6 separate regions of the Homo sapiens genome follow, and all the other regions are linked to region 5. Evidence: fine-mapped expression QTL. A gene starts in region 5. Each other region holds a variant in brackets. All regions are shown on one strand. Distances are between the middles of the regions.

Region 1 (4,135 bases), 180 kb after region 5:
TCATGTGTGAACTCCCATTCACAACTGCTTCAAAGAGAATAAAATACCTAGGAATCCAACTTACAAGGGACATGAAGGACCTCTTCAAGGAGAACTACAAACCACTGCTCAATGAAATAAAAGAGGATACAAAGAAATGGAAGAACATTCCATGCTCATGGGTAGGAAGAATCAATATCGTGAAAATGGCCACACTGCCCAAGGTAATTTATAGATTCAATGCCATCTCCATCAAGCTACCAATGACTTTCTTCACAGAATTGGAAAAAACTACTTTAAAGTTCATATGGAACCAAAAAAGAGCCCACATTGCCAAGTCAATCCTAAGCAAAAAGAACAAACCTAGAGGCATCAAGCTACCTGACTTCAAACTATACTACATGGCTACAGTAACCAAAACAGCATGGTACTGGTACCAAAACAGAGATAGACCAATGGAACAGAACAGAGCCCTCAGAAATAATGCCACACATCTACAACTAACTGATCTTTGACAAAGCTGACAAAAACAAGAAATGGGGAAAGCATTCCCTATTTAATAAATGGTGCTGGGAAAACTAGCTAGCCATATGTAGAAAGCTGAAACTGGATCCCTTCCTTACACCTTATACAAAAATTAATTCAAGATGGATTAAAGACTTAAATGTTAGACCTAAAACCATAAAAACCACAGAAGAAAACCTAGGCAATACCATTCAGGACATAGGCATGGCAAGGACTTCATGTCTAAAACACCAAAAGCAATGGCAACAAAAGCCAAAATTGACAAATGGGATCTAATTAAATTAAAGAGCTTCAGCACAGCAAAAGAAACTACCATCAGACTGAACAGGCAACCTACAGAATGGGAGAAAAATTTTGCAATCTACTCATCTGACAAAGGGCTAATATCCAGAATCTACAATGAACTCAAACAAATTTACAAGAAAAAAACAACCCCATCAACAAGTGGGCAAAGGATATGAACAGACACTTCTCAAAAGAAGACATTTATGCAGCCAACAGACACGTGAAAAAATGCTCATCATCACTGGCCATCAGAGAAATGCAAATCAAAACCACAATGAGATACCATCTCACACCAGTTAGAATGGCGATCATTAAAAAGTCAGGAAACAACAGGTGCTGGAGAGGATGTGGAGAAATAGAAACACTTTTACACTGTTGGTGGGACTGTAAACTAGTTCAACCATTGTGGAAGTCAGTGTGGCAATTCCTCAGGGATCTAGAACTAGAAATACCATTTGACCCAGCAATCCCATTACTGGGTATATACCCTAAGGATTATAAATCATGCTGCTATAAAGACACATGCACACGTATGTTTACTGTGGCACTATTCACAATAGCAAAGACTTGGAACCAACCCAAATGTCCAACAACGATAGACTGGATTAAGAAAATGTGGCACATATACACCATGGAATACTATGCAGCCATAAAAAATGATGAGTTCATGTCCTTTGTAGGGACATGGATCAAGCTGGAAACCATCATTCTCAGCAAACTATCGCAAGGACAAAAAACGAAACACCGCATGTTCTCACTCATAGGTGGGAATTGAACAACGAGAACACATGGACACAGGAAGGGGAACATCACACACTGGGGCCTGTTGTGGGGTGGGCAGAGCGGGGAGGGATAGCATTAGGATATATACCTAATGTTAAATGATGAGTTAATGGGTGCAGTACACCAACATGGCACATGTATACATATGTAACAAACCTGCACGTTGTGCACATGTACCCTAAAACTTAAAAGTATAAAAAAAAAACAAAAAAAACCAGTATTTTGACTATATAGTGAAAGGATAGGCCAAAAAAAAAGAACCATATACAAATACAATACTCTAGTTAGTAAATTTGATTTTCATAGGAGTACATGTTAGCAATTCTGTAACTACAGACAAGTGAGTATGTTATAGATAATGAGAACCAGGTTTCTTACTATCAGAAAAAAATTAGAAATACAGAAAGGGAGAAGGTTAGAATAAACCTTGTGATGTTGAACTACAATCGGAGGTTTCAGTATGAACTCATGATTTTAGGTAAATAAATTCACAGAGTACTGGA[C/T]TATAACCCATAGAATATAATAAATATCCACAAGTCCAATATTAATATAAAATAATTGAATAAGTAAATAAGTAGGGGAGATGAGACATCTCTTCCTTTAGAAGAATTACAATGGGCCGGGCGCGGTGGCTCACGCCTGTAATCCCATCACTTTGGGTGGCCGAGGCGGGTGGATCACCTGAGGTCAGGAGTTTGAGACCAGCCTGGCCAATATGGTGAAACCTCGTCTCTACTAAAAATACAAAAATTAGTCAGGCGTGGTGGTGGGTGCCTGTAATCTCAGCTACTTGGGAGGCTGAGGCAGAAGAATTGCTGGAACTGGGGAGGCAGAGGTTGCAGTGAGCCGAGATTGTGCCATTGCACTCCAGTCCAGGTGACAACAGGGAGACTCCATCTCAAAAAAAAAAAATTACAATGAATAAGTGTAGAAGGACTGACAAAAGTTAAAAATCACCATTAGACCAACACCACAGCAATAATTACATCAGGCAAGATCCACTAATGGCTAAAATCAATGGGCAAAAGTGAGAAGAAACAGGAAATTGGCATAGATTCAAAGTATCTCCCACAAGAGAATAAAGTATCTCCCCCAAATGAATAAATAATAATTTTACAATGGAAAAATCTGGTACACTATCTTAATCAAGTGATCAAGGTTAACATCACCAGTTAATAAGATTAATTGACATCCTATACCTCTGAATACAATCCACTGAGACAAGGAAACAACAGCATCATGTTTGTGGTATTCTTGCCAAAAATACATAATTGCAATCGAATCATGAGAACATATCAGATAAATCCAAAATGAGAGACATTCTACAAAATAACTGACCAATACTCATAAAAAATGTCAAGGTCATGAAAGATAAAAAACAAATAAAGAACTATTACAACTAAAAGCAATGTGGCATCCTGGATTGAATCCTGGAACAGAAAAGGAGCATTAGAGGGAAAATTCAAATGAGCTCTGTAGTTTAGTTAAAAGTACTGTACCAAATGGGTGGGAGATCTGGCTCAGGACATTAGAGCCTGAGTAGGGTGAAGAGGGCATGCATCATGTAAAGGCACAACCTAGCACAGGGCATGAGAGCCCAAAGCAAGAGGAAGAGGGAAGCTATACAATGGGAAAGTCCAATATGAGGAGTCAGAACCCAAGAAAAAGAAGGAAGGTGTCCACATTGCAGTGAACAGGCTCCGCATGGCACAAGGTTTCCAAGGCTGAATGGAGTGATGGTGACATTTACAAAAGGACATGGATGATTGGAAAATAATTACATACAGAAGGATTGATCAAATAAGTAAATACAACAAAGATAAAGTTTTTCTCACTTTTGGAAAACGGAGTTAAATATGGTAAGGGAAAAAACAGAATTATTTCTGTTGTGATAGACTGTAACTGGAGGTATCAGCATGACCTCATCATGGTTTTCGATATACATGTAGATAAATACATATGGAAATAAATATGAACATGGATGTACACATGTGTAGACACAAGCACACCCCTATGTATGTAACATTCATGTTTCTTAGCTCTATGTACATAACATTCATATGTTTCTTAGCTCTCTAGAGGGCCTGGGAGCCATAACACTTTATAAGCAGTAACTACACCTAGCACTGGGTGTTGATTTCTAAATATCATTAGAAATCAGCACTCCCTGGAAAAATGGTTGATTCCAGAACTAGGACAGAGAAGGTATAAAATGAGCCTGGAATGTCTTTTTGTGCCAGAAAGTAAGGAAATACTTAAAGAATGACAGGGGCATGTTAAAAGGACACAGAGGTCAGCTTAAATAGGATTCCTCTGGTCAAATTGAGGACAATTTGAGCATCAAAATAAATAAAGACATTTGTGTTTGTAAAGGCGAACTCAGGGAAAGCTTCTGAGGCAAGGAAATTAAAGCTGAGTTTTAAAACTGAGTAGAAATTAGAGGCAAAGGTATGTGAGTGTATATGTGTGTGTCTGGGTGAGAGGGAGAGAGAGAGAAAGAAAAAAGTGGGGGTATGTGGAGAAGGAGAGGGGCACTGACAGGGAAGACATTCCAGGTAAAAAA
Region 2 (4,135 bases), 320 kb after region 5:
AAAGCCTCTTTCTTTTCTGCCCTGCATTTGTTTACAGGTCCTGAGCTGGACCTTCATATAGATGATGATGGGAGGGGGCAGAGGGAAGGAGCCAGGTCCAGCCTGACAGCACTCTGGACCCCCGTTTTCTTTTCTTTTCTTTTCCTTTCTTCTCTTTTCTTTCTTGCTTTCTTTTTTTTTTTTTTTTTTGAGATGATCTCGCTCTGTCACCCAGGCTAGAGTGCAATGGCATGATCATGGCTCACTGTGACCTCTGCCTCCTGGGCTCAGATCCTCCCACCAGGTGCATGCCACCACACTTGCCTAATTTTTAAAGTTCTTTGGGGTAGGGATGGGGTCTCACTATATTGCCCAGGCCGGTCTTGAACTCCTGGGCTCAAGCAGTCCTCCCACGTTGGCCTCCAAAGTGCTAGGATTATAGATGTGAGCCACCACGCCCAGCCTGGACCCCAGTTTTTTCTCAGCCTACGCATCTATCCTCATGAAGGAACATTTCATTTTAGTACTGGGAAGACTTTGAATACATCCTGGATCCAGAAGCCAAGAAGCCAGATAACTGGAAGGAGGCTATGGATGGGGAGTGGGAAAGGCCTCTGATGCCAAATCCGAAGTATAAGGTGAGGGGGGTCTCTCTTTCCAATGGGTGTGAGAAATGAGACAAAAGACATGTCAACGCTAATTGATGAAACAGAAATTCTGAGATCCTGTGGTCATCTTCCCTTCCCCTAAACCCCGCAAATAAGACTGTACCCTCATCTGAGCCCTGCTCACAGGGCTATGCCTACGTTGGACGGGGTGGGCTGGTAAAGGCCAACTTTGACAGGTATAGGGCCAGGCAGCCCTGGGCCTGGAGTTTGTCCAGAGTGGTGGAAAGCAGCCAGTCACAGGAATGTGGTCAAAATAGGACATGGGTTTGGGGTCAGGAACTGGAAGTCTTAGAAACAGGCCAGAAGGAGAAAGGGTGTCCATGAATGAGCCAAAAATGCAAGGGGTAGGGACACTTTTTATTTTATTTATTTATTCATTTATTTTGAGACAGAGCGTTGCTCTGTCACCCAGGCTGCAGTGCAGTGACGTGATCTCGGCTTACTGCAACCTCCACCTCCTGGGCTCAAGAGATTCTCATGCCTCAGCCTCCCGAGTAGCTGGGACTACAGGCACGTGCCACCACGCCTGGCTAATTTTTTGTATTTGCAGTAGAGACGCGGTTTCACTCTATTGGCCAGGCTGGTTTTGAATTCCTGACCTCAAGCGATCCGCCTGCCTTTGCCTCCCAAAGTGCTAGGATTACAGGAGTGAACCACTGCACCCAGCCAAGGGACACTTATTTTTAAGAGCTAACTCCTGACCTCATGTTAGAAGCAAGAAGAACGAAAGGAATCAGTGTCAAATTGTCCAGAGGTAAAACTGACTGAAGCAAGCATGATTTTATTTGGCCACAGTTTCCTACACTACACACCAGGAAGAGAACGGCCTCAACTGCCAGGATACTCAGATGATATTCTCTGAGAAGCTACATTTTCTTTATTTCATGAATGAGCTGGTGCAGACATGGGGCCAAGCTCAGAATGGGTCCCTGCCACCTCGCTTGGCTTCCTCTGGGTAGCAAGGGGAATTTGAAAGAATCTTGTGCATTAACTCAAAGAAAGGGAAAGAAGCTCCTGGAATCCTTCTCTGAATCCTTATGTCTAATACACAACTGCCTCATAAATCAATTGGTGTATTAGTCCATTCTTGCATTGCTATAAAGAAATACCTGAGACTGGGTAATTTATAAAGAAAAGAGGCTTAATTGGCTCATGGGTCTGCAGGCTATA[G/T]CTATACAGAAAGCATGGCAGCATCAGCTTCTGGGGAGGCCTCAGGTGTCCACTGTGATGGCGGAAAGTGATGGCAGGGTTTCTCACACGGTGGGAGCAGGAGCAAGAGAGAAAGGGGGGAGGTGCTACACAATTTAAAAGTAACCAGATATCATGATAACTCACTCACTATGCAGTACCAAGGGGGGATCGTGCTAAACCATTTATGAGAACTCTGCCCCCATGATCCAATCACCTCCCACCAGGCCTCACCTCCAACACTGGGGATTACAATTTGACATGAGATTTGGGTGGGGACACAGATCCAAACCATATCAATTGGCCTTTCTGATTGCATGAGATCAGAAGAATGACAAAATACTAATGCCTTGTTCACTGGTTCTTTGCTTAGGGAGAATGGAAACCTTGGATCATTGAAAATCCCAATTACCAGGGGGAGTAGATTCATCCCAAAATAGACAACCCTAAATATAAGCCTGACGCCACCATTTGTCACTATTATAACATTAGTGTTCTCAGCCTGGACCTTTGGCAGGTAAAGCCCTCTGAGCTCAGAGCCACTGAGCCACAGTCTCTCAGTTTTCACAAAGTAGAAAGAGCCTCAGGCTGGAAATCACAAGACTTGAATAAGTCTTGGTCTTTATAAGCCTCAGACTGCTGATCTTTTAAATGGGGGCAGTCATAGTCTTCCTAATAATTATAAGTTACTAAAATTTACTGAGTCCCTCTCATGTACCAAATGCTGTATTAAAGACTTTGCATATGCCATTTAATTTTCACTAGCGAGTCTCCTACTTGTTTTTTTTATTTTGGAAAAATTTAATATATTCTCTATTGTTAAGTACACCAGATGCTGGACTTCTGAAACAACAATTGTACTTCAGCATAATTGCATTTTCTACATTTTTTCTGTTCATGTTGCTTGTTCCTCTGATTTACCTAGAATCAGTGAATCTGAAAAACAAAAAGATTCTTTAAGCACCTGGTAAATTTCAGGTCCCACATTAGAAAATGAGCAAGCATCAATAATATTGATGGGGGTGAAAATATGACACTGTGAAAGTCTCCTACTTCTAAATGTGAAAAGGAGACTCAGAAAAGTTAAATAATTTGCCTGAAGACATACATCTGTTAAGGTAAGTAGAAAAGCTAGAATTTAAGTACAGCTCTTTTTGTGTTTGTTTGAGACAGAGTCTCACTTACTCTGTCACCCATGCTGGAGTGCAGTGATGCAATTTCAGCTCACTGCAACCTTTGCCTCCTGGGTTCAAGTGATTCTCCTGGCTCAGCCTCCTGAGTAGCTGGGACTACAGGCATGCACCACTACGCCTGCCTAATTTTTCTATTTTTAGTAGAGACAGGGTTTCACCATGTTGGCTAGGCTGGTCTCCAACTCCTGACCTCAAGTGATCCACCGCCTCGGCCTGGGATTACAATCGTGAGCCACCGTGCCCGGCTGAGTGCAGGTCTTTCTGATGTCAGATTCAAAGTTCCAATACTTTACGCTGCTTCTGCTGGTCCTACGTGATCCTTGGAGGTGCTTCTAGGGATAAAGGGAAATCAGAGATGTGGTAAAACTCTGAAACATTAAAATTCCCGGACAGATGTTAGGGGTGATTGCCCCAGCCATGATGATAAGTCCTGACCCAGCTTCCCTCTCTCTGCCAGTCTTCTTTCCTTTAATTGGAAGGTAAAAAGGAGGGGACCAATACGCCAGCCTTTAAAAAGTTGTTGTCCTCTCCATCTCTTTCTTCTCTGAGACTTATTAAGAAAGATGGGGAGGACTCCTCCCCAAATCAGGAGAAAAGAGAGTGGCTCAAGGCCCCAGAGTAAAGGCCTTGGCCATGATTCCTCCCAGGAGTCTGTTAGAAACTATAATCTACAAAGTCCTGGATGAAGAATTCCCCTGGAGAGGAAGGGAACTCACTTTTGTTAAACACTGGCCTGGGGTGAGTGCTTTACCTACATTACCTCCCCAAATTCTCACAACTCTATAAGGTAAGTACTATTATCCCTTATTATTTCCTCATTTTATGTTTGAGAGAATTGAGACTCAGAAACACCAAGCGACATGTCCAAGAGCACACAGCTAACGCATGGTAGAGACACGATTCAAACATAGGTCTGTCAGCCTCTAAAGCCTTTGCTGTATTGATTACACCCACTGTACAACAGAGCCTCTGGAAGCCACAGCCACCTGTCCTTGGGTATATCCTGCAAAGTCCCATGGCCACGTGTCTCAGTGTCTCTGATCAGTGATTTCTACAGTTCAGAGCCACCGAAGGTTTCTGGGACAGACGCCCTCTATTTGAAGCTTT
Region 3 (4,000 bases), 77 kb after region 5:
TATTCTAACTGTGACTGACTATCCATAAGAACAACATATGTTTCATTAATTACTGGCAGTGCATGGGATTATAGCCCATGCTTTAGGATTGATTTCACTTCCCTTTGCTGTCAGTTTCTCCACAACCAACACTGGCATTTAGGATTGGTTCTAGCTAAATTTTTTACCATACAGGAATAACCTTTTTTTTTTTTTTTTTTGAGACAGATACTCACTCCATCACCCAGACTGGAATGCAGTGGTGTGATCTTGGTTCACTGCAACCTCCGCCTCCCGGGTTCAATCAGTTCTCATGCCTCAGCCTGCTGAGTAGCTGGGACTACAGGCACGCACCACCACACCCAGCTAATTTTTGTATTTTTAGTAGAGATGGGGTTTCTCCGTGTTGGCCAGGCTGATCTCGAACTCCTGACCTCAAGTGATCTGCCTGCCTCAGCCTCTGAAAGTGCTGGGATTATAGGCGTGAGCCACCATGCCGGCTGTGGAATAACAAATTTGACTGGTGTTTTGCCTGAAATAGAGTAGAACTCAAATGCTTGTGCCCTTACTTCCTCATCTTATGCTCCTCATTGTTTCAAGTATGTGTGTCTTGTTTCCCTTCTAAGTTTATGAACCTTTCCGAAGCAGGGTCTGTATCATGTCAGTTATTAATCTCTTAGTGAGAAATATGTTCCAGTATTGCTTCATCAAAAACTTCATAAGAGGAGGAAAAAATAATGGGTTGTTAGCTAAGAGAGTTAGATTACTGAATACCAGGTAAAGCAATATAATATACTCAATAATAAATTTTATATCTAGGTTTCTTGGGTAGAATATATATTATATTAAGATTTAGGGAAATAGGGTTATACAAGAAAAATTTTAGAGGAAAGGACCTGCCAGAAAGACCTGTGCTAGGTGTTAATAGCCTTCATCTGGGCAAAAACCCAAGAGAAGAGTATAGCTCTCACCTTTTTATGCCTTTTCCCTTCTCCATCTCCCCATGGAACAAAGATTGGTCTCAGAAGGAGACGCCATCAGTAAAGAACTATCAGCGGACATTACATTAACTGATAAAATGATGATCACTGACATCAGCAACAAGCCAAGAATAATTTTACTTTGTCAGCCTCTGAGGCCTAAATATAATGTAGCTTAAGTTTCAAGCAGATTAAAGCCTAATTCAGTGGTTGTCATTTGGAAAATATGTTTTAGAATTACCTGGAGAGCTTATTAAAAATACAAACCATGGAAAAGTATTTGATATTCTTGAATTTGTGAGACTTAGCCTTAATATTAAAACCTAATATATAACATATATATATGTATGTATGTATGTATAGAAAACTAGAGATCAATTTTATCTGTAGAATATAGATGTAAACTTTCTAAAAATTAAATCCAGTTTAGCAAAAAGAATAATTCAAGTACCAGGAATGCTAGGGTTGTGGAATATTAGGAAATTGATGATCATAAGTCACCACAACACAAGTCAAAGGAGAGCCACTGTATGAATATAGTGATAAATGCTGATAAATCATTTGATAAATTTGAGTTGGCATTCCTAATACATAGGAATGGAAGGAAATTAATTAAGTATAAAAACCTCAGCCTGGCGCGGTGGCTCACGCCTGTAATCCCAGTGCTTTGAGAGGCTGAGGCGGGCGGATCACGAGGTCAGGAGATCGAGATCATCCTGGCTAACACAGTGAAACCCCGTCTCTACTAAAGATACAAAAAATTTGCCAGGCGTGGTGGCAGGCGCCTGTAGTCTCAGCTACTCGGGAGGCTGAGGCAGGAGAATGGTGTGACCCTGGGAGGCGGAGCTTGAAGTGAGCCGAGATCGCGCCACTGCATTCCAGCCTGGGCAATAGAGCGAAGACTCCATCTCAAAAAAAAAATCAAAAAACCTCAAGTAAAGAACTATCAGCGGACATTACATTAACTGATAAAATGATGAACACTGACATCAGCAACAAGCCAAGAATAATCCACAATCATCTCTATTATTCTGTTATTGTTTTAGAGGTTCTGGCTATTAGAGTAAGATGAAAAAATAAAAACTTTTTTGGAAAAAATATTTTTCCTTGCAGATGATATGATTGTATTCTTAGAAAACCTCATATACCACTAAAATTAAAAAAAAAATTAGGTGTGATATGGCTGGTCAAAAGACTAGTATATCAGAATCAATGGCTTTTTCTCCCCCATAGTACCAGTAATCACTTAGAAATGGAAGCCAGGCACAGTGGGATGTGCCGGTGGTCCCAACTCCTCCGGAGTATGAGGCAGGAGAAATACTTGAGTTTGAGGATACTTAGCTATGATCGTGTCACTAGCCTGTGCGATATAGCGAGGCTCTGTCTCTTAAAAAAAGAAAGAAACAAATGGATGGAAACAATCTTACATTTATTTACAATATTGAGAAAAAAA[AG/G]CCAATAAAATGGCTAAGAATAAACAGGAAAAGTATAGGATCTATCTGAAGACAAACTACAAATCTTATTGAGAACACCCATGAAATGATAAAAAAGGAAGAATTGTTCCAAATTTGACAATTATTTAGAATTTTGGACCCTTAAGATTCTTTGAGGCTAGGAGGCTGAGGCAGGAGGATCACTTGAGGCCACGAGTTTGAGACCAGCCTGGCAACATAAGAAGACCTTGTCTGTACAAAAGCAAAAAAATTAGCCGGGCATGGTGGCCCCTGTCTGTAGTCCCAGCTACTCAGGAGGCTGAGGTGGGAGTATGGCTAGAGCCTAGGCATTCGAGGTTATAATGAATTACAGTCGATAGTACCACTGCACTCCAGCCTGGGTGACCAGTGATATCCTGTCTCCAGGTAACACCCAAACAAACAAACGAACAAATTGAGTTGTTAGTAATTTTCTTATGTCCCCCCACAATGCCTAGTTCCATGCTGGGTACCTGGTAAAAACCAAAGAGAAACATTTCCCTCCCTAATACCTAGTGGATTTCCATGCTTCTTAAAATGCTTCCTTCTTTTTCTTTTAGCTACTGTTTCAGCTCATTATTGACTACTTAGCTGAGTTCAATTCCACACCAGCTGTCTTTACAATGATAACTGAGCAGTTGAAGAAGACCTACTTTAACATCCTCATCAAGCCCGAGACTTTGGCCAAGTGGGTATAAATGAGATGAGCTTATATTTTGAGGACCTGAAAGTATTACTCTCCCTAGTGGGTGGGTGTGGGGGTTAAGGCTATAGTTGCAGTGCTAATTTTCATCCGTGTTTGAATCGTGCTCTAGTTTAGGAGACCCGTGCATAGCGTTACGGTATTTCTAAACCCAGCTTATGTAGCTAGCTGTGAATGGGACTGAAAGCAGCTTACTGTAGAGACTAAAAGTAAGGAAGGGTGTTTTCACCAATCATTATACCTGAATGTTAAAGAAGTGCTAGTTTTAGGCCGGGCATGGTAGCTTATATCTGTAATCCCAGCACTTTGAGAAGCTGAGGTGGGAGGATCACAAGCCTAGAAGTTCAAGACTAGCCTGGGCAATATAGCAAGACTTCATCTCTACAAAAAATTAAAAAATTAGCTGGGTGTGGTGGCACATGCCTGTAGTCCCAGCTACTTGGCAGACTGAGGTGGGAGGATTGCTTGAGCCCAGGAGGTTGAGGCTGCAGTGAACCATGATCATGCCACCGCACACCAACCTGCATGACAGAGATAGACCCTGTCTCATAGAAAAACAAACAAAAAACAAACCAGAAGAAGTATTTACTGGTGATTTTAGTATGTTGGTGATTAGTAGCTGAGTTAAATTGCTAAACATGTCACTTATCTAGCAATCTTAACTATCCAGAATTCAGCCAAGCTTCCAGAAGAGAGCAGAAAGGCAGCTACACAGTCTGTATGCTAATACTTAAACCCTCTGCTCACAGGCAACCCCCTTGGGCCTTCATTCAGAGCCTGTTCTTACTACTTTAGTCCAGGGCTAATTGTAGCCTGTAGGATACTTTTGCGTGAATCAGAAAAAAGTATCCTTCTGAGGTACCCTC
Region 4 (4,000 bases), 60 kb after region 5:
TTTTTTCTGATTAGAAGTCTTGAGTGTGAACTATGGAAATATCAAATGTGAAACTTTAATAAAATCAGAGGTGTGTTTAATAGAGGAATTCATTAGGTTCTGTCAATCCCTGATGAGCATTAAAAAAAATCTCATATATTATTCACTAATAACTTTGGTTCCTTAATTAGACAGGTTAAAAATTCTTTGAGGCATTTAATACTAATTTGCATCAACTGTGTTTTGGAAGAAATATTAAAGTTACAATATCTTCAACCAGAGTAGAAGCCCCTAGGAGGGACCAAGTCTTTTAAATACCACAGTGCCTAATATAGTGCTTTATACCTAATATTCACTTCATGTATAATCGTTGATTTTAAAAAAGTATTATCTCTAGTTTGTTTCTTTCTGGAATGGCTTTGTCTAGGAGGAGAACTGAAATTAAATGAGGCTGATAGAGTCAGTAAATATTGGGGTGAGAGGGGGTCCTTTAAATTCATTCTCTATCTCTTGAGTTGTAAAGACTTTTGAGTTATTGGGCTGAGGCTAAGAACAGATTGTGTAACTGAAGATTTTGTGGCTGTGTTGCCATCTATTTGTTCATGCCTGGAATGCTTTCCAAGAAGGAGTATGTAGAATAGATTATAAATATCTCTCAGTTAGATATCCCTAAAGATATTGCTTATAAAGGCTTTTGCCAGTTAAATTTGTATGTATTTGTTTTATTTTCAGTGGGTTACCCAGACCAAACTTTGGCCATTTAACGGATCCATTTGACACACCAGCATTTAACAAACTTTATAGAGGTTTGTGAACCAAAAGTTTAAAACTGTTTGAAATAATGTTAGCACATTCTCTATAACCTAATTGAAGCTGCCAATTTTCATTGAAAATGAGAACACAACAGAAAATACAGCTGGGTTGGAAAGGAAGTAGATGGGCAATGGAGATCTAATTAATAATAGATAGCAGACCACTGACTAGCTGCAGATCGATTGATTCTGGTGCCCTGCTGCTACTTCAGTCTATTTCATGCTTTCTCCTTGTTTTACCTTTCTTCCCTTTTGTTCTCTGTTTTGTTAAATTTTCATTCATGTTTCATTTTATTTATATTCTGCTCTTTTGCCTTTAAATGAATAAAAATAGATGAGAGGGAAAACACTTTGGCAATCGTTTCCTTTTAAATTCATTGTGAAAGTAATATTTGCTAAATAAAAATATAAAATGTCAAGAAATGGGAGATAAATCACCCTTAAATCTTACCATGAAGAGAAGTCATTTGTATCGGATTTCTTTTTTTTTTTTTTGGAGACAGAGTCTCGCTCTGTTGCCCAGGCTGGAGTACAATGGCATGATCTCAGCTCACTGCTTCGCCTCCCAGGTTCAAGCGATTCTCCTGCCTCAGCCTGCTGAGTGGCAGTGATTACAGGCACTCACCACTATGCCCAGCTGATTTTTGTGTTTTTAGTAGAGACAGGGTTTCACCACATTGGCCAGGCTGGTCTCGAACTCCTGGCCTCAAGTGATCCGCCTGCCTTCGCCTCCCACAGTGTTGGGATTACAGGCATGAGCCACCACGCCCGGCCTCCAGATTTCTTTCTGATTTTCTAATAGGTATATTTTCTTAACAAAGTCGAGATTATAAAGTATATATATAATTCTGTCTCCTGCTTTGTTTCATTTAATAGTATACCTGTAATAACTACATAATGAGTTGTGTGATTACATTATAATTTACTTAACAATTTGCCTACAGTGAATATTGCAGAAACATTCTTAATTCACCATCTCTCTTTATTCTATCACGGCAGATTTTTTTTTCTGTTTTTACTAATTGCCTTAGGTATTCCCTCCTTCTTCACCCCGTTACCAGTCTCTTTTGCTTTCCCCTAATCAGTGACTGTTTTGTTACACGCTTCTGCTGCTGGCTCCATTCTGTTAATATTAAACTAACTCTTTCCAGAGACAACTTACTTTTTATTGTATTCTTTCTGGTTTTAGGTTTCCTCTTCATAGAATAATAGCATTGAGAAGAATCCTAGAGATACTTTAACCCAACTAACTCATTTTACTATGAGTAAACAGATTCAAAAAGATTTAAATGCAAGTGATTTTCTCAGGTCATGTAAGCACATATAGCAAGATAGTGGTAGGACTGAATTTCAGCCATGGGTCTCCTGACTCCTAGTTTTGTATCCTTTCTTGCAAGAAGAGATCCATACACAGCAGCATTTCATATCCTCATAGTTCTTTTATCCC[T/G]GCTTTCTCTACCTCTGAAACCAAATAAAAAAGAAATTTACAAAAATTGCATTATTCGAGTTGGAAAATTGGCAAGTTGAAACAATAACTGCATTGTACTTAACCTTTCCTTGTTTATTGGAGGATAAATATATTGAATTTTAAACATTCTTGTAGTAAAAGTCATAGAGAAACACTTACATCTGTTCTTCTGGAAAATATTTTTGTTTAGTTGTTCCAATCAGAAAAATTCATGCTCTGACCATCACATGGGCACTTCCTCCTCAACAGCAACATTACAGGTAAGAGTTTAAGGGAAAATTTACTTCATTAGAACCAAGTGAGAGTAATTTTTAAAGCATGCTAAATGGTTTAAGTTTGGGGGTTCTGAATTTATAAACATAGCAATACGGTAACCTGGAACTTGATTACTCCGGGAGCTTTCAAGCCTTGCTATGTATTTTACTATTTTTTGGATATAAAAACTAGAGCTTTCTCAGTTATAGTGGCCTTTCTTAAGTCTTTGAAATTAAGTGTTTAGTGTGAATGCTAACTTTTGTAATTTGTTTCGATCTTGTCAAAAATAAAGTTAAATAATTTGGGCCTGGCAGACTGGCCAACATAGCGAAACCCTGTCTCGACTAAAAATATCAAAAAACTAGCCAAGGCGTGGTGGCACACACCTGTAATCCCAGCTACTCAGGTGGCTGAGGCACGAGAATTGTTTGAAGCTGAGAGGTGGAGGTTGCAGTGAGTTGATATTGCGCCACTGCACTCCAGCCTGGGTTGACAAAGCAAGACTCTGTCTCAAAATAATAATAATTTGGATTGGTAATATGACTAGGGTACATAAATCCCAAGGATTTACTCCTCTGAATTAGGGCAGGTTTATGCAGATTGGGAAAGGAGTTCTACTTGTCTGTATAGTTATCTTATATGAGCAGTGTAGCATGGGCCAGAGAATTATTTAAGTTAAGGATCAGTCAATGCCTACAAATGCTTTTCCAGTTAGAAATAAATGCTAATCAACTGATAAAAATTTAACTTTTTTGGGAGGGGGGGTGGGGCTCAAGCAGTCCACTCACCTTGGCCTCCCAAAGTGCTGGGATTACAGACATGAGCCACTGTGCCCAGCCAAATTCATATTTTAAACAAGGTTGTATGGGCTTTAAGGATTGCCTAACATAGTTGAAAATCATATCTTGACATTCAAGAATTTACTGAATTTAACTGTGTAACCTAATTAAATTTTCTCATATATACAGAAATATACAGAAAACTCAATTTTTTTCTGTATGTCTTTGTGGTAGGAATACTTTAACAAAATTACAGTAGAGGCCAGGGGGAAAGACAGTTTGAACAGCATGTGCACAATTACTCGGACTATTACATTATTAGTATGTGATAAAGCATTTTTATACTTGTTATTGCATTTTCATGAAAACTCTGTGAGTAAGTAGTTGGGCAAGTGAAGAGAAAAAGAAGAATACGGTTAAGTATCTTGCTCAAGGTCATGATTTACTTAAAGGAAAAACTAAAACTAGAACCAAGATTTTCTGACCCTCTGAACAACACATTTCATTTTACCACAGAACCCAATGTGGTACCAAAAGCTTTTACAGACAGTAATTCATACCTATATTAGGTTCTAGACTGATAAGGAATCTACATTTCATATTGGGTGAAGCAAAAAGATTTATCATGAGAGCAGATAAGTTTGGTGTCCAAGAGAAAAAGTAGTGCCCTTAAATTTTGGGATGATTGTACTCTTCAGTAATCTCAA
Region 5 (4,120 bases):
CAGCCTCAGTGACTGCGCACAGCCCTCCAGAATACCCTGAAAATATGCAGGATAGAGCACAAGTTCCCATGTCTCTTGCCTGAATCACTGCATTTTTAGAAAAGATAAATCCAATGATGCTCGACCTTGCCTCTTCCTGTACATTTCTGACAGGATTAATGACTATGCCTCCATAATCTATAAACATGTGTACTCTTCCACCTAAACCTTCATGAGATTTTGCTCTAGTGTAACTCCTGAGTACATTTTTTCTTTTTTATTAGAGACAAGGTCTTGCTCTGTCACCAGGCTAGAGTGCAGAGGCACAATCATAGTTCACTGTAACCTCAAACTCAGGAGTCCCAGCAATCCTTTTAACTCTGCCTCTCCTGTAGCTAGGACTACAGGGATGTTCTACCACGCCTTGCTTTTTTATGTGTGTGTGGAGACAGAGTCTTGATATGTTACACAGGCTGGTTGTAAATGCCTGGCCTCAAGCAATCCTTCTGCCTCAGCCTCCTTAATCACTGGGATTACAGGCCCAGCCTTTCTGAGCACATTTGATTTAACTTCCAAGCACATGCAGAGCGGCCACCACCTGTATAGAAGCTGCGGGCTGAAACACTGCTTTGGAGCAGTCTAAAAAAAAAACTCTCTGACTCTCCCAGGTGGCAGTCCTCAATAAGACTTCTGAAGAAAGCTAACTTGAATTATTTAAAAGCCTGATTTACTTTAGTTTACATATTTTACAGTTCCTTCCCATTAGGATGCAAGCTCCCCCAAGGCAAGGCTTTAAATTTTTGTTGTCGTTGTTTAGACAGGGTCTCACTGTGTCAACCAGGCTGGAGTGCAGTGTTGCAATCACGGCTCACTGCAGCCTCGACCTCCTGGACTCAAGCGTTCCTCCTGCCTCAGCCTCCTGAGTAGCTGGGACCACATGCACGCATCACCAAGCCTGGCTAATTTTAAAAAAGAATTTTGTACAGACGGGGGTCTCACCATGTTGTCCAGGCTGGTACCAAATTCCCAGGCTCAAAGCAATCCTCCCGCTTCGGCCTCCCAAAGTACTAGGATTATAGGTGTGAGCTATCACTATCACGCCCAGCCTAAGGCAAGTTTTGTTTTGTTCATGGTTGTATTCCTTGCATTTGGAACTCAGAAGAGGCCTCGAAAACCTTGAAGATACAGTAACTATCAACACATCTCCCTGCTTCACGTCTTTCCCCGCTCATTCGTATGTATGAGCTATGATCTCTTACCCCATGGTGTCAGTATAGTGCATCTTACTAATTTCAGCTGCTTTTTAGCTTTCATTTATGTTTGTATTTCCGTCACATTTTACATTGCTAACCAAAGACCACTGCTAGCGGGAAAAACTGGGAAAGGAGACTTGAAGGCAGCAGACGCTGCAGCTGCTCGATAAAAATTGGCCGAATTTAACAGGAGGCTGGAGGAGCTAAAAAACGTTTTCACACAGAAGAGTTAGCACATCCAGACTGGTCTTTTTAGCACTTTCTTAGGGCTTGAGGATGAAACCCCACCACTGTCGGGCCGACTGTAGGGTAGAGAAGAGCCAATTAGTATTTGCGGCGCTCGGGAGCAGCGTCCATCCGGCGGGTGTAGGAAAATACTTCCGGCGTTCTGGTTTTTTATGTGCTGAGTCACAGCCGAAGGCTCGCCCCGGGTCTGAGGAGTAGGGTACCCAAACTATGACACGAATGGGAAAATTTAAAACTTTGGAATTAATTCTCTGCACTCGTTTCTCAGTTTTCTCATTAGGGGAATATTTTTCTTTGACACGCGGAGCACTACTCAGTGGTTTCCACAAAACACACTCGTACGTCATAAACGCGCCGGGGGCCCTTCTCCCGTCGTCCTCCGCGCCACTCTCTCCGCTTCTTCTCCCTCGCCCCGCCCACTTTGGGTTTCGAAATGTTCGCTGGCTGTTCCGAGAATCAGTCCGGGTCACGTTGGTGCCTCTCCTTTCCTGTTCTGATTGGTTGCTTACGTGAGCGTGACTACTTTCTTGCCTCATGATTGGCTGAAATCAGTAGCGTCATCGGCGGCCGGGAGGGCGGAGGGACGAGGGAAGTCGGCGAGAGGGAGACTGGGTTGGGGGAGGGGTTCAGGCCTGTTCCCCGCGGCTGCGGCAGCACCAGGGCCGGCCGCCACCGCCTCTAGAACGCGGAGGAGGTGGGTCCTGGGAAGCGGGATGTCCATCGCTCCAGCTTGGTGGTGAATGCTGAGGAGAGTCACTGTTGCTGCAGTCTGTGCCACCCGGAGGAAGTTGTGTGAGGCCGGGCGGGAGCTCGCGGCGCTCTGGGGAATCGAAACGCGGGGTCGGTGCGAAGACTCTGCTGCTGCCAGACCCTTTCCTATTCTGGCCATGCCTGGAAGGAACAAGGCGAAGTCTACCTGCAGCTGCCCTGACCTGCAGCCCAATGGACAGGATCTGGGCGAGAACAGCCGGGTTGCCCGTCTAGGAGCGGATGAATCTGAGGAAGAGGGACGGAGGGGGTCTCTCAGTAATGCTGGGGACCCTGAGATCGTCAAGTCTCCCAGCGACCCCAAGCAATACCGGTGAGGGAGGAGGCTTGCAATGGGGAGGCGAACAGTGTGCCGGCTTCTCTGTCGGTGCCGCCGTCACTTCTTGTCTCCATGTCTCCCAATGGAGCAACAGGGCACACTTTCCACCCCAAATGCTTCCTTGGGTGGAGGTGGCAAGCGTGATTAGAGGCTTCCCTGTGGTGTCAGCTGGGCAAGTGGGAGATCTTGGGTTGTAAGACGTCAGAATGGGAGAAGCTTTTCGAGTCATTTGAATACAGTCGCTAAAGCAAGAATGAAGGTTTCTTTGAGGAACGCAGCCTGAATGGTGAGGGAGTCTTGGTATTATGTTACCAGGAAAGGTTGACGGAGTTGGATACTTTAATTTGGAGGACAGGATATTTAAGGGGCATATTATCACTATCCAAAATATTTGAGGGACACTTAAGTGATAGGTGAAACTAGTGGACGAAAGTTACCAGAGGATGGTGTGGCTTCAGTAAAGTAACTTTGCATCATATTTGGCCTAAGTTGAAGTGACTTGTTTCCATGGGTAGTTCTCCATTACCAAAACGGTTGGGCGACCTCGTCCAGGAATATATTAGAGAGGGCTTAGGTCTCAGTTGGGTGAGTTGTAAGGTTTCTTCTAACCTTGAAATTCTCTACTTTTGGTTTGTACAGGAGTTCTCTAAACATTTCTAATAATTGGTGATTCAGTCCCCACCTGAGTATTTTCCTTCAGAGGTAGCTTATTTCATGGAGTATCATGACTATGATGTATCTTGCGTGTGTGTGTGTGCGTGTGTGTTTTAATAAGAGTCTGGGTCTTGCGATGTTGCCCAGGCTAATTTCAAACTCCTGGGCTTAGGGAATCCTCCTGTCTTGGCCTCCCAAAGTACTGGGATTACAGGCGTGAGCCACTGTGCCAGGCCTGGACTTTGATGTATTTTAAATAGAGTTCATATTGTCCAATAACTTCGTTGAACAGGTTGAGGAAATTGAGACCCAAAGAGTTTGCTTCTTGCTCTGAATCACACAGCTAAATAATAACAGAGCTGGTATGATGACCCCTACTATCTGACACCAAATTCAGTGTATCATTTGCTGATTTCCTTTTTTTTTTTGAAACGGAGTCTTGCTGTGTCACCAGGCTGGAGTGCAGTGGCGCGATCTTGGCTCACTGCAACCTCCGCCTCCCGGGTTCAAGCGATTCTCCTGCCTCAGCCTCCCCAGTAGCTGGGACTACAGGTGCTCGCCACCACGCCCGGCTAATTTTTTGTATTTTTAGTGGAGACGGGGTTTCACCATATTGGCCAGGATGGTTTCGATCTCTTGACCTTGTGATCCGCCCGCCTCTTCTCCCAAAGTGCTGGGGTTACAGGCGTGAGCCACCCCGCCCAGCCCGTTTGCCGATTTTTTACAAATTTCTTGCTTATGTGAATTGAAAGCTGAAGGATTCTAGTTCTAAATTTGTTATAAGCCCCTACAGCGTTAGCGCAAGAAACAACCTTATAGATAATCTTTTCCACTTCCCACCACACCTCTTTGACAGATGACACTTAGCTCCAAGTTCAGGACCAACCTAATTTCTCCTTTC
Region 6 (4,125 bases), 88 kb after region 5:
ACCTAAGTGGTTGCCTAGAATAGCTGGATTATTTAAAAGCCCTGTAAACCACTGGATATTCAGTTGGCCTGACAACCTTCTCTTTTCAGTCAGGTACCAGGAGTCTAAGAGAATATACGCTTATGGAGCTGCTTGTGGTAAGTGCATAAAGGAGATGCTGAGGTTTTCAGCAGCCCCTGACCCACTATGAGGCCCGGCCTTTTCTGCCTGGGTTAGGGACATGGGGTAGTCAGAGATCTGTGATTTGAAGGTGAGATGGTCATTTACTGTTCTCACCCAGTATAAGCCTGGGCCAATTAGGAAAAAGGCACTAAGGGAGGCTGGACTTGGGAGGTATGTGAAACACTCTGGGGAGAGAAATGGAGGTTTCTCTGCTGGGAGGAGTTGGGCTGATGGGCAGTATGTTGAATTACAGATGCACATGGAAGAACCTTGTTTTGACTTCCTTCGAACCAAGCAGACCCTTGGGTAAGTCAGCTGGCAGGGCCACTGAGCTCAAATAAGGGCCTAGGGCTTACTTTGCAGGCTGTTCATCAGATATCCCTACTGAGCAGCCTGTTAGAGCTTCCTTCCATCTCATAGGGTGATATTTAGTCATCCAAACTTTTGGAATTTGTATCTTTGACTGTAATCAGGTTTTCAGTTTGGTCAAGTTTCAAGATAAGAAAAAAGGCTAGTTTGTGGTCCCCAATTCAGGAGAGGTATGGACACCTTAACATTTTTGGGTCCTGTTTCAGGACTTCCAGTTCCAATAAGGATGGGCAGAAACTTTTCCCACTCCTATCTAGTGCCTCCAAGGCCAGGGCCCAGATGATCACCTGAGCTCATATAACTTTTCTCTCTGGCTTGTAGGTACCATGTCTACCCTACCTGTAGGAACACATCCGGGATTCTAGGATTTTCTGTCACTGTGGGGACTCAGGCAACCAAATACAAGTGAGTGAGTGAGTGAATAGATGAGTGTAACCTATTATGGACATGGAGAGTAGGGGCTACATGTGTTTCCTTAAACCTTGGGCAACCCTGACCAAGCAGGTTTGCTCTATTTAGTCAGTGGAAGCTGGGAAGATGGGGGTTGTTATAGATGGTCTGTTCCAGGACTGATCAATAGTTCCAGTGGCCCTTTCAGACTTGATTCAAGTCCTGTGGTCATTGTGTGGGGCTTGCCAGTGTTTCTTCTCTTCAGGCAGACCTGAGGACAAGAAGGGAAAGGATGCCTGATCTGACAGGCATTGCTGAAACCTGTTAGTTTTCAGCTTTGGAATGGTCATACATGGTTGTGACTGCTTCATTATGAGGATACCAGGAAACTGGGCTGGAGGTGGGGTGAGGGGGAGGGTTCTTTCTCTTTCTGTCCTCAAAGTCAGGTGGAATACTGAGGCCTGGGAAAACACTTTAGCTTTTTTTCCTGGATATATGTCTTAGTCTTAATTCCTTCTTTTGCCTTCTGCCTGAGATCGGGTTTCTGATGACTTAATTGAAGATGTTTTGTTTTAGTTCTGATTGAAGATGTTTTGTTTCAGTTCTGAAGTTGTTGATAAGAAGATAGAAGAGTTTCTTTCTAGCTTTGAGGAGAAGATTGAGAACCTCACTGAAGAGGCATTCAACACCCAGGTGACTGTGCCAGCCTGGTCTTTTGGCCTTTGGCCCACACAAGCCCCCAGATACAAATCTTAACAGGGCTTCGCCGGCCAGTTTTTGAGCTTTGCAGCCCCACCTTCCTCTTACAATAGTGTCTCCCTAGCTTCATCCGTGCCTCTTATACTGGCATGTCCATCACAAGCCGGGCTGGACAGGGCCCAGTGTGTTCTGTGGGAAGTGGTATGTTGCCTCACCTGAGCATCTTTCTTTTTGGTGGGAACAGGTCACAGCTCTCATCAAGCTGAAGGAGTGTGAGGATACCCACCTTGGGGAGGAGGTGGATAGGAACTGGAATGAAGTGGTTACACAGCAGTACCTCTTTGACCGCCTTGCCCACGAGGTAACATGGTTTTCAGAGTAAGACAGCTCAAACTGGTCAAGGTTCCTGATTCTACAGGCATCACAGGTCTGTGCACACCAGCATTGTGTGGAAGAGAAACTCGAAACACTAGTCCTGGCCTGATTACTCGCTCACTTCCTGAGTTTTCAGACTGGCCTCTCTAGCACCTTAGGTGGCCACGTGAGCTGGGTGCTAATCCTTACCACACCACCACCAATTTCAATCAGAGCAGCTCTATTTTTATGCTATATATTGAGGTCT[A/G]CAAGATTTTGTGGAGAAAAAGAGTTTTGCCGTTTAAAGAAAATTGAGGACTCTTTGTCTTTACGGAGTTCATTATTCCAAGTGCATGTGTTTTGACAACTTCTATTCCAAAGTAGTAAAACCTATGAAAAAGATCTGGATCTTGTACTCCAGTGTGACTTTGGTTAATACATAGCCCCTACATGGTGAATTACCATAGGACATCATTGCTCTGTGATGTAAAGAGGTTATTTAGTAAGAGGCTTCATCTTAACACATTTTAGTTTTCTTAATAGAAGCAAGGTAGATTTCCTCAAGCCGTGGTATGCAGCTACCATGTAATTGGGAGGTGACACTAAGGGGATGTGGGTGTTGGGCTCAGTGTATGGTATTTAGCTGTAATTATAGCATCTGCTAACCTCTCTTGCCATTGTAGATGATTGGTATAAAATGTGAAGGCATGCCAGAGAGCTTCATCATCGTTTTGGTCTGGAAGGTTAGGGGTAACCTGAGAATAGGAAGAATAAAATGAGGTCTTCAGATGCTAAGCAGGTCCAGGGACATCTGCCTGGGGGTTAGGTTTAAGAGCTATCTTTCTTCTTGAATTTCTTTCCTATCTTCCCTTCCCTTGTAAGATTGAAGCACTGAAGTCATTCTCAAAATCAGACCTGGTCAACTGGTTCAAGGCCCATAGAGGGCCAGGAAGTAAAATGCTCAGCGTTCATGTGAGTATGTTTAACTAACTCCATCCATTCTAGGGTTGTCATTTACTGAGTGAGTTTGGGTGGTTATCATCAGAACTCTTAAACCCCTAAATCTGGTCAGCATATTTTTCACTTTTGTCTTTGTCCTCTTTCAGGTTGTTGGATATGGGAAGTATGAACTGGAAGAGGATGGTACCCCTTCTAGTGAGGATTCAAATTCTTCTTGTGAAGTGATGCAGCTGACCTACCTGCCAACCTCTCCTCTGCTGGCAGATTGTATCATCCCCATTACTGATATCAGGGCTTTCACAACAACACTCAACCTTCTCCCCTACCATAAAATAGTCAAATAAATAAACTGCAGTCACGTTGGCCTGAAGCAATGTGTATTTTAAAATGTGTTTGTTTGTATTTTATGGAGTTAGTTATACTACTGCCTTAGGGCTTCCATTGAAGTTTTGCACTGGCATCATAGCATTTGATTTACTTTTTATCCTTTGTTGAGACTAATAAACCCAGGGTTACTGTAGGAGCTGGCAAAGGAAAATTAGCAGAATGGGCCAAGCGAGACCAGAAAGCCTGCAGCAGCACTTTGAGAAGCCCTGGCCTGTGTCCTCTCAGACTGAGAATCTACTTCTTGAAAGGCCTTACGTAACCAGTATATTGAATAACTAACTAAATGCTAGGTACTAATACCTGTTTTTTTAATGTATTTTTAAATAAAAAAGATGATAGATAGATAGATAGATATAGTTCTGTATTTCCCTTCAGAATGAGCCATCTGCTGCTGTGGCATTCATTTTATTCTATCTATCTATCTATTTTTGTTCACTGTGGGGTGGGGATCTATAAATACACACTCTTCCCAAACCCTCTAAGGCAATAAAACATTTTTGGATAAAATGTTGGTAGGCAGCCCTACATGTGCAATATGAGTTAAGTGAAGATTCTGGGGAATTGCCTGGCAGGGGCTAAAGACAGAACATACAATCTGACAGAGGAAAAGAATGGATCCTCCATTATTTCAAGTGTCTTTCTTTGAAAAGCTAGCTCTTGTATTCAAGGTTGCCAAATAATTGGCTTCCAAGTTTAACCATAAAAGATAATAAAAGATGCACATTTTTAAAAAAAAGGTTGGAAAAATTACTTTATGAAGCCTTAAGCACTAAGAATAATTAATTAAACTGTAATCCAGGATTA

Alleles and levels. Alleles are on the strand shown, and positions count from the first base shown. SD is a standard deviation of normalised expression in the study named. Not every link is listed here.
With allele G in place of T in region 2, the expression in cerebral cortex of the gene that starts at base 2,107 in region 5 is lower (moderate effect, 0.53 SD a copy in GTEx).
For the expression in monocytes of the gene that starts at base 2,107 in region 5, allele G in region 3 goes with a higher level than allele AG (large effect, 0.77 SD a copy in BLUEPRINT).

Evidence for each region. PIP is the estimated chance that this variant, and not a neighbour inherited with it, causes the effect.
Region 1: its variant is the best candidate, but not a certain one, in a credible set for the expression of NRDC in whole blood (INTERVAL, PIP 0.79).
Region 2: its variant is the best candidate, but not a certain one, in a credible set for the expression of NRDC in cerebral cortex (GTEx, PIP 0.52).
Region 3: its variant is the best candidate, but not a certain one, in a credible set for the expression of NRDC in monocytes (BLUEPRINT, PIP 0.62).
Region 4: its variant is the best candidate, but not a certain one, in a credible set for the expression of NRDC in blood mononuclear cells (TOPMed, PIP 0.70).
Region 6: its variant is the best candidate, but not a certain one, in a credible set for the expression of NRDC in ileum (GTEx, PIP 0.75).

The regions. Positions count from the first base shown.
Region 1 is chr1:51,699,294-51,703,428 of GRCh38, reverse strand. All of the region lies in intron 3 of OSBPL9 (oxysterol binding protein like 9), which reads right to left. Among named protein-coding and RNA genes, the nearest start is that of OSBPL9, 84 kb to the right of the region's middle. The variant C/T (reference allele first, on the strand shown) is at 2,076.
Region 2 is chr1:51,560,107-51,564,241 of GRCh38, reverse strand. It overlaps EPS15-AS1 (EPS15 antisense RNA 1), which reads right to left. Exons shown (of 5, transcript NR_183651.1): 2 at 3,219-3,360. It also overlaps a transcript of OSBPL9 not described here and the pseudogene CALR4P. Among named protein-coding and RNA genes, the nearest start is that of EPS15, 43 kb to the right of the region's middle. The variant G/T (reference allele first, on the strand shown) is at 1,818.
Region 3 is chr1:51,799,675-51,803,674 of GRCh38, reverse strand. It overlaps NRDC (nardilysin convertase), which reads left to right. Exons shown (of 31, transcript NM_001101662.2): 21 at 2,992-3,119. Among named protein-coding and RNA genes, the nearest start is that of MIR761, 35 kb to the left of the region's middle. The variant AG/G (reference allele first, on the strand shown) is at 2,413.
Region 4 is chr1:51,816,585-51,820,584 of GRCh38, reverse strand. It overlaps NRDC (nardilysin convertase), which reads left to right. Exons shown (of 31, transcript NM_001101662.2): 9 at 712-785; 10 at 2,450-2,519. Among named protein-coding and RNA genes, the nearest start is that of MIR761, 18 kb to the left of the region's middle. The variant T/G (reference allele first, on the strand shown) is at 2,239.
Region 5 is chr1:51,876,714-51,880,833 of GRCh38, reverse strand. NRDC (nardilysin convertase) reads left to right here and starts at 2,107. Exons shown (of 31, transcript NM_001101662.2): 1 at 2,107-2,559. The coding sequence starts at 2,219. RefSeq lists silencers at 1-62, 2,020-2,069 and enhancers at 816-1,369, 1,760-1,939, 1,823-2,117, 3,786-4,120.
Region 6 is chr1:51,788,389-51,792,513 of GRCh38, reverse strand. OSBPL9 (oxysterol binding protein like 9) reads right to left here. Exons shown (of 24, transcript NM_024586.6): 24 at 3,295-4,125. It overlaps NRDC (nardilysin convertase), which reads left to right. Exons shown (of 31, transcript NM_001101662.2): 25 at 90-137; 26 at 416-468; 27 at 853-936; 28 at 1,524-1,614; 29 at 1,865-1,981; 30 at 2,857-2,946; 31 at 3,081-3,304. The coding sequence ends at 3,278. Among named protein-coding and RNA genes, the nearest start is that of MIR761, 46 kb to the left of the region's middle. RefSeq lists a silencer at 3,691-3,891. The variant A/G (reference allele first, on the strand shown) is at 2,243.